Linked DNA regions of Homo sapiens. The protein of the gene in region 1 purifies or fractionates together with the protein of each later gene. This does not show direct contact. Each region holds a gene or a part of one and is shown in the gene's direction. Other genes may lie near its edges.

Region 1 (4,257 bases):
TCAGGAAGAGTCACTTGAGCCTGGAGAACGAATAGACAAGATGGGAGAGCCTTTCCAGACAGGAGGAACAGCATGTGCAAAGGCTTCAGGGCTGGAGGGAGCCTGGCACAGTGCAGACCAAAAGGTCAGGGTGCTGGAACCTAGAGAGCAATGGAAGTGTGTTTTGGGTGAGGTTAGAGAGAGGCAGGCAAGGTAGGCTTTGTGGGCCACATGAGCGAGTTTGGATTTAAGCAGGGAGATAACTTGATTGGATTTGCATTTGAGAAGCATATTCTTCCATGAAGCCAGCAGGGTTGTAGGTAGCACACCTTCCTCTGAGAGCCACATCATCACCTTGTCTGCACCTCTGGTTTAGGAGCTTCTTTTAATCAGCTTCCTGGGCACAAAGAAAGGAAGAGAAGATGCAGTGGAGGAACAAACAGATTATATCCAGCCTGTCTAACTGTTTGTGTAATTCTGGGGAATGCCCTGAAGTCCATCCATGGACTCAGGCCAAAATTCTTTGCTCTGTCTAACATGACACAAGCCACATTGTATTCTAATTGTTTGTTTGTTTGTTTATTTCTGAGATGGAGTCGCTCTGTCGCCCAGGCTGGAGTGCAGTGGCATGATCTCGGCTCAGTGCAACCTCTGCCTCCTGGGTTCAAGCGATTCTCCTGCCTCAGCTTCTCAAGTAGCTGGGATGACAGGTGCCAGCCACCACACCCGGCTAATTTTTGTATTTTTAGTAGAGATGTGATTTCACCATGTTGACCAGGCTGGTCTCAAACTCCTGTGCCAGGGTGTTCCAGGCACTGGAGACGCCATAGTGAAAGGATGTAGTCATTGTCCTCAAGGGTCTCAAGTAGGAGAGGCTAATCCTTAGATACCCAATTCTGGAGCATGGCAGGACCTGCAGCGACTTGCATAGTGATGCCCAGAGGGGGTCACCTGAGGGAGGTAGGGATGGGGGGAGTAGGGGAAGGTGGGAGAAAGGGAATGCTTCGTGTCCTCAGGCTGTATACAGAGAGACCTGTTCATCATGATTTGCTTTTGTTACTGTAGGCCAAAGCCCAGAAAGTTTTGCAGAGGCTGGATGATGTCCAGGAAATATTTCACAAGAGGCAAGTGAGTCTGATGAAACTGGCAGCCAAACAGACTCGTCCAGTGCAACCTGTGGCCCCACATCCTGAGTCTTCACCAAAATGGGTGTCATCAAAAACCAGCCAGCCCTCCACCTCGGGTAGGTTATTTGAGGAAAAGAAGCTTTGTGGCTTTTGTGTTTCATCAGCACCATGAGGACTGTGACTGGTTGTCTACAATGGATAATGGTCGCTGTTTTAACAGATACTATTTAAAACAAACTACAGATATAGCATAGTGCAGACATGGAAGACATAAACACTTAGATAACACCAAGTGCCTGGATGCAAGGAGAAACACACAATCTACTGAAGGAATAATAAAAATGCATCATAAAGGCCGGGTGCGGTAGCTCACGCCTGTAATCCCAGCACTTTGGGAGGCCGTGGCGGGTGGATTATCTGAGGTCAGGAATTCGAGACCAGCCTGGCCAACATGTTGAAACCCATCTCTACTAAAAATAGAAAAATTAGGCTGGGCGCGGTGGCTCACGCCTGTAATCCCAGCACTTTGGGAGCCTGAGGCGGGCAGATCACGAGGTCAGGAGATCGAGACCATCCTGGCTAACACGGTGAAACCCCATCTATACTAAAAATACAAAAAATTAGCCAGGCGTGGTGGTGGGCACCTGTAGTCCCAGCTACTCGGGAGGCTGAGGCAGGAGAATGGCGTGAACCTGGGAGGCAGAGCTTGCAGTTAGCGGAGATGGCGCCACTGCACTCCATCCTGGGTGACAGAGCGAGACTCCGTCTCAAAAAAAAAAAAATATATATATATATATATACACACACACACACACATACACATATATGTATATACACATATATATACACACACACACACACACATACATATATATACATATATATATATAAATAAATTAGCCTGGGCATGGTGGCGGGCGCCTGTAATCCCAGCTACTCAGGAGGCTGAGGCAGGAGAATTGCTTGAACCCGGGAGGCAGAGGTTGCAGTGAGCAGAGATTGCGCCATTGCCCTCCAGCCTGGGCGACAAGAGCAAAACTCTGTCTCAACAACAACAACAACAACAACAAATGCATCATAATAATAACATAATAATAACAGCATAAAATAGACCCCATTCAGGACCTTTAAAAGGCCCATGTTTTATTAGCAATGGAGTAGTAAAATTGGTTCTTTGAGCAAAGATTTAAAAAATAGGTAAGTTCTTATGCCAATCCCACATGGTCCTGATTACCATAGCTTATTAGTCAGCCTTTAAGATCAAGTCATGCGATGTTCCAACGTTGTTCTTTTTCAAGGTTGTTTTGGCTATTTTAGGTCCTTTTCATTGTTCCATAAATTTTAGAATCACCTTTCAATTTCTGCTGGGATTATGATAGGGATTACACTGGATATATGAGCTAATTTGGAGAGAACTATTATCTTACCAATATTGACTTTTCCAATTCCTGAATATGTTATAACTTATGTTTTTTAGGTCATCTTTAATTTCTCTCAACAATGCAGTCGTTTTGAGTGTAAAGGCCTTAGGCATTTAACATTTTTTTAACCCTATAATGAATGGAATTTACCATATATAATTAAGAATAGGAATAGATTTCTATATAGAAATATAATCCTATCATCTGTGAATAGGGATGCTTTTACTTTTTTCTGTTTCAATCTTTATACTTTTTTTCTTGTCATATTATAATGACTGGGACCTCCACTACAATGTCAAATAGAAATGGTGAGAGCAGACATCTGTGTGTTTTCCCAATATTAGGAAAAGAGTTCAAGTTTCATCTTTAAGTATGATGTAAGCTATAGGTTTTCCACAGATGTCTTTTATCAGATTGAGGGAATTCTCTTCTATTTCTATTTTTTAGGAGAGTTTTTATCGTGAATGATTATTGAGTTTTCAAATGCTTATTTGGTCCATGTATTGAGAGAATGATATGGTTTTTCTTCTTTATTTGTTAATATGGTAAATTACAATGATTTGTTTTCAAATGTTAAAACAACTGTACATCCTTGGAATAAACTGCCCTTGGGCAGGATGTACATGTCATTTGTTTGTGTCGTGTATTGTGGACCTCTGTCATTAAGCACATACATATTCATGGTTTTTATGTCTTTCAGATATATTAGCTCTTTTATAATTATGAAATGTCTCTCCTTCCCTCCTTACCTCTAGAAATACTCTTAAAGTCTATCTTGTGCGATATTGTCACAGCCATTCCAGTTTTCTCATGCTTAGTGTTTGCAGAACATATTTTTTTTGTTTTCTATTCTTCTGTCTTTGTATTTAAAGTATATTTGTTGTAGGCAGCATATAGTTGGGTCTTGCCTTTTTATACACTGTGACCTCTGCCTTGTAATTGGAGTGATTAGATTTTTATGTTTACATCCATCATCATTATTGATATAGTTGGATTTAGAGTTCCTGTTTTGTTATCCTACATGTCTCATGTGCTTTTTATTCCTCTTTTCCTCCTTTCCTGCCTTCCTTTGGGTTAGTAAATATTTTTTAATATTTTGTTTTAATTCCTCTATTGGCTTGTTATCATATCTCTTTGTACTGTTTTTCACCAGACTGGGGATTACCATATGCATCCTTAACTTGTCATGATCTATTGAATTAGTTTCATACCATTCTATGCAAAATATAGGAAATCATACTACATACTACAATGTCATACTTCCATATGCTCCCCATCCATCCTCTGTGCTATTCTTATCATAAATATCACATCTATATATGTTAATCCCCCACTATGGTATTATAATTTTTGCTTTAAATAGTCATGTATCAAATTAAGAGAAATACATACGTGTGTGTGTGCATGTGTGTGTGTGTGTGTGTGTGTGTGTGTGTGTACATACCCCCTTATTCACCATTTCTGGGGTTCTTCATTCCTTATTATAGATTTGAATTACTATCTTGTGTCATTTCTCTTCGGAATAAAGAGCTTCTGTTAGTATTTATTGTTGGGGAGTCTACTAGCAACAAATTCTTTTCTTGTCTTTATTTTTTCCTTTTTGTGGAGAACGGGGTCTTGCTATATTGTCCAGGCAGGTTTCGAACTCCTGGGCTCAAGCTATCCTCCTGCCTCTGCCTCCCTAAGAGCTGGAATTACAGTTGTGAGCCACCATGCCTGGCCTGTTAGCA
Region 2 (3,500 bases), on another chromosome or scaffold:
CACCTCAGCCTCCCAAAGTGCTGGGATTACAGGTGTGAGCCACCGCGCCTGGCACATGGGTGTTTTAAAGTTAGTAGAATAGTGGGATCTGCATGGGAGGGGAGAACATGGCAGTGGGAAAGGCAGGAGGCCTTGATTCTCCATGTCTTCCTGATGCTAGGCAGGCCCAACGTCTCCATGCAGAACTATCCTGGAACAGGGAAGCATATGCAACACAAATCCATTGCTGAGTGGAAATAGAATGAATCTAATGCTTTGCACAGAATTCAACTCTCTGATCTATAATTCGATCTCCTGTGTGGCCATGCCCATAAAAAAGGCCACTATATGCAGATGACCAGCCCAACAGAAATCAGGGAATTTGGTTTTTAGGCTCCTTGAGTTAGTGTGATTGTCCTTGGCAGACACATCTTCTCTGGCCTCCAAGGGTCAGAATTGAGTTTCAAAGTCAGACAGAACTGTGAAGGCTGTGTCATCTTGGGCATGGTACTAAATTTCTCCGAGCGGCTCTATAAAACAGGGGAAAAGATCTTGGAGGGCTGTCATAAGGAGTTAGCAATCTAACAATGCATGGAAAGCCTAGTGTCTGGGTGTTCCGTCATGTCCCCTGGACAGTGGACAGCAGTGACTGACCGGCTGTCTCACACCTGCCTGGCCCTAGTGAAACAAACTGGGCAATCAGACCCTTTCATAACTCTTTCAAAATACGGTAGTTTTGACCAACAGCTTTCCAGCTTAATAACGCAGTTATCATTGGTACTCTTTAGCCAAGATTAAAGGTCTTTGTACTAATTCCTCATAAAGCACATTCCCTGCTAACTTGTTTTCTACAAAATTTTGGAAAATTCTTTTTTTCTCCAGCAGTTAAGCATTTTCTTAGCATGCAGCTAAAAATTTGAAATAAAATTTATCTTGGAGATAAATTCTTTTTCTTACATGTTTCTGATGATCTTCAGGAAGCTCAGGAGCCATTCCTGGCCCCAGGAGCTGCATTTATGCACGGGACTGTGGCCAGTGAGGACAGGAGCTTCCACTCGTGGAAAACCAGCTTGTTAATAATGATCCCACTTTTGTTTGGTAACTTAATAAAGATTAATAAAGGCCTCTTATACTCTTCAGTTTGCTGATCCTACCAACTCTATGAGCCAACTCTTACCTGTGTTTTATAGATGACAGAATTGAGGCTCAGAGGTGTAAAGTAATTCACCCAGTCACATGTCTAGAAAGGAAATGATAGAATCAGGACTGAAATCTAGATTATATTTGCTTAAATCCGGTTCTCATTCCATAGGTTATCAGGGTAGATGCTCGGGAAATTACACCACAGGGCGGGGGGCCTCCATCAGCAAAAACCAGCCAGAAAAAAACAGCTGTGTGTTCGGTCTTTCCAAACCCAGGACCAAGCCAGTGTTGAGTACATAAGAGGCCTTCAGTGGATATGGAAGGCGTAAGTTAATTTTGTTGGTGAATGAATAAATAAAAAGACTTTGAGAAATCTATTGGGATGAGGCTCCATGAAACTATATTTACTCAAAACCTTAGTTAAAAGATTGAATTTAAACAGTTTTTAATTTCTCTATGAAATTATTTCCGTCTCTTTTTAGGGGTAAAATAATTTTTCAACATATATCATCTCTAAAATAATCTGTTCACTCAAATGCAGTATAATGTCATAATTATTAACAGTTCCAGGTAGCCGACATCATTGTGAGAATGTCTTTATGTGATAAAACCTCAAAGTCATTTTTCTTCTTAGCATAAGTGGCATCAGCCAACCACAGAATTTTTTTAAGTCCCACTTTTTTCTCATACCCCACCAAAATTTCTTAATACCGTTAAAATCCAAAAATTTCTTTAAAATCATTCATGAAAAAGATTCTTAGAATTAACACCTCAGTTGTCCGAGCACCAGGAAGCCACATTACAGCTAGTGCAATACACAGAGACCGTCTGTCACCAATCATTTTCTTCTAGCGCGTCTGTTCTAGCCCCTTTCTCTTCCCTCCACACCCCATTGCACCATTTCTTCAGCTCGTGAAAACTGAGCTTGCTGGACATGAGAAACCTGCCAGTGTGCCGCTGTGTAAACCATAACATTTTGCTGCTGCCTTTCTGCAGTCCTGAAGCCAGCTAATAACTGCTCAGTAAGCGCCTCTTCCACAGCTTCCCTAGGTCCCTCTGTGTCTCTGGTGGACTGGGGCCTGCTCCCCTGTCTCCTAGCCTCTCTGAGTGCCTGAAGGCACCACCCCAGCGCTTCTGCATAACTCTCAAAGCCTCAGGTGAACAGGGCAAAGAGAGCACCCTCCCCACTGACTGTCTCCGCACTCTCCCTGGCATCTTTCACTTGCTTCAGGTGCCGTGAAGCTGATGAACCCACACACTCTGGAACACATTCTTTGGCGTCCCGTGTAGTGTGTCCCTCTGAGGGACATTCTTCATGATCCTTGCCGCATCTGCAGTGGGAACGCAAACATCTTGTTCTCCAAAACTTTCTTTTGAAGTATCTGTGGTTTCATGATTATTCCTGTTCCCAGTGTCAGCACAAGGCTGTGCAGCATGACTTCCTCCAGCGCAGTCTGCAGAAATCCGGAGTCGAGAAGCCTCTGTCCTAGCACTGTCCCTATCCTAGGTCATGAAAGACTGTGATTGATGTTCAAGACACCTCTGTAACGAGATGTTTGATCTTTACCCAGTTTCAACCTTCCAGACAAGCCCAGGGGCCATAATTTGCCAGATGGATGGCTGCATAAGCCAGACCATGGAAAAACAAAGGCCATTCCTGCACAATCACCCCCACCCCATGACCTCGTTCCCTCCCCACGATGGTGCCCGCAGCAGTCCCGCCCCACAACCCGGCCCTCCTGACCCGTCAGTACCAGGTGTGCGGGGCACATGCCCTCAGCGCATCTCTGCCTTGCCCGGGGCCAGCAGGTGCACGCCGGAATGCTGCGGACCAACCAAGTGGCCCGGCCAGCCCTGACCCCTGCGGGTGGAAAAGGGTGCACCCTGGGGATCCCCACATAGCGGCCAAGGCCTTAAGGATACCAGCATCTCGCTCCCTGAATAGACTCTAGACACAAAATGGAGCCAGCACAGGGCGCGTCTCGGCGCATCCTCCTCAGCCCAGGCCCCGTGCGTAAGGAGCGCTCCGTGTCAGCGCGCTTGCTAGACCCCATTGATTTTTAGAGACGGGTTTTACTATGTTGCCCAGTGTGGTCTCCAACCTCCTAGGTTCAAGCAGTCCTTCCACCTCAGTCTCCCAAGTAGCCAGGATTACAGGTGCGCACCACCACGCTCAGTGCTGTTGACTTTAATGTGAATAGGAAATAAGTTTTGATGTTTGTTTGTTTTTTAAGTGGGGCTCCTGTTTTTTAAAAATGGATCAATTTACCTGGAGTGCAGGCTGCTCCTGAGCTTGAAGGTGGAAGTCAGTTCATGCGTGAAAGAAGTCTTGCCTAATTGAAACATGGCATCACGGTTAATAATTAAAATGTTATCTG

The links. Proteins that work in one complex are often made in the same cells at the same time.
Region 2: the proteins of MCF2L2 (region 1) and SFXN1 purify together in Homo sapiens (affinity purification with mass spectrometry, with the first as the bait; one large-scale study listed by BioGRID). This does not show direct contact.

What each region holds. Positions count from the first base shown.
Region 1 is NC_000003.12:183,292,265-183,296,521, reverse strand, and holds part of MCF2L2 (probable guanine nucleotide exchange factor MCF2L2), read left to right. Parts: exon of another isoform or gene 1-376; intron 377-1,044; coding exon 1,045-1,222; intron 1,223-4,257. UniProt on the Homo sapiens protein: Probably functions as a guanine nucleotide exchange factor.
Region 2 is NC_000005.10:175,481,560-175,485,059, forward strand, and holds part of SFXN1 (sideroflexin-1), read left to right. Parts: intron 1-3,500. UniProt on the Homo sapiens protein: Amino acid transporter importing serine, an essential substrate of the mitochondrial branch of the one-carbon pathway, into mitochondria.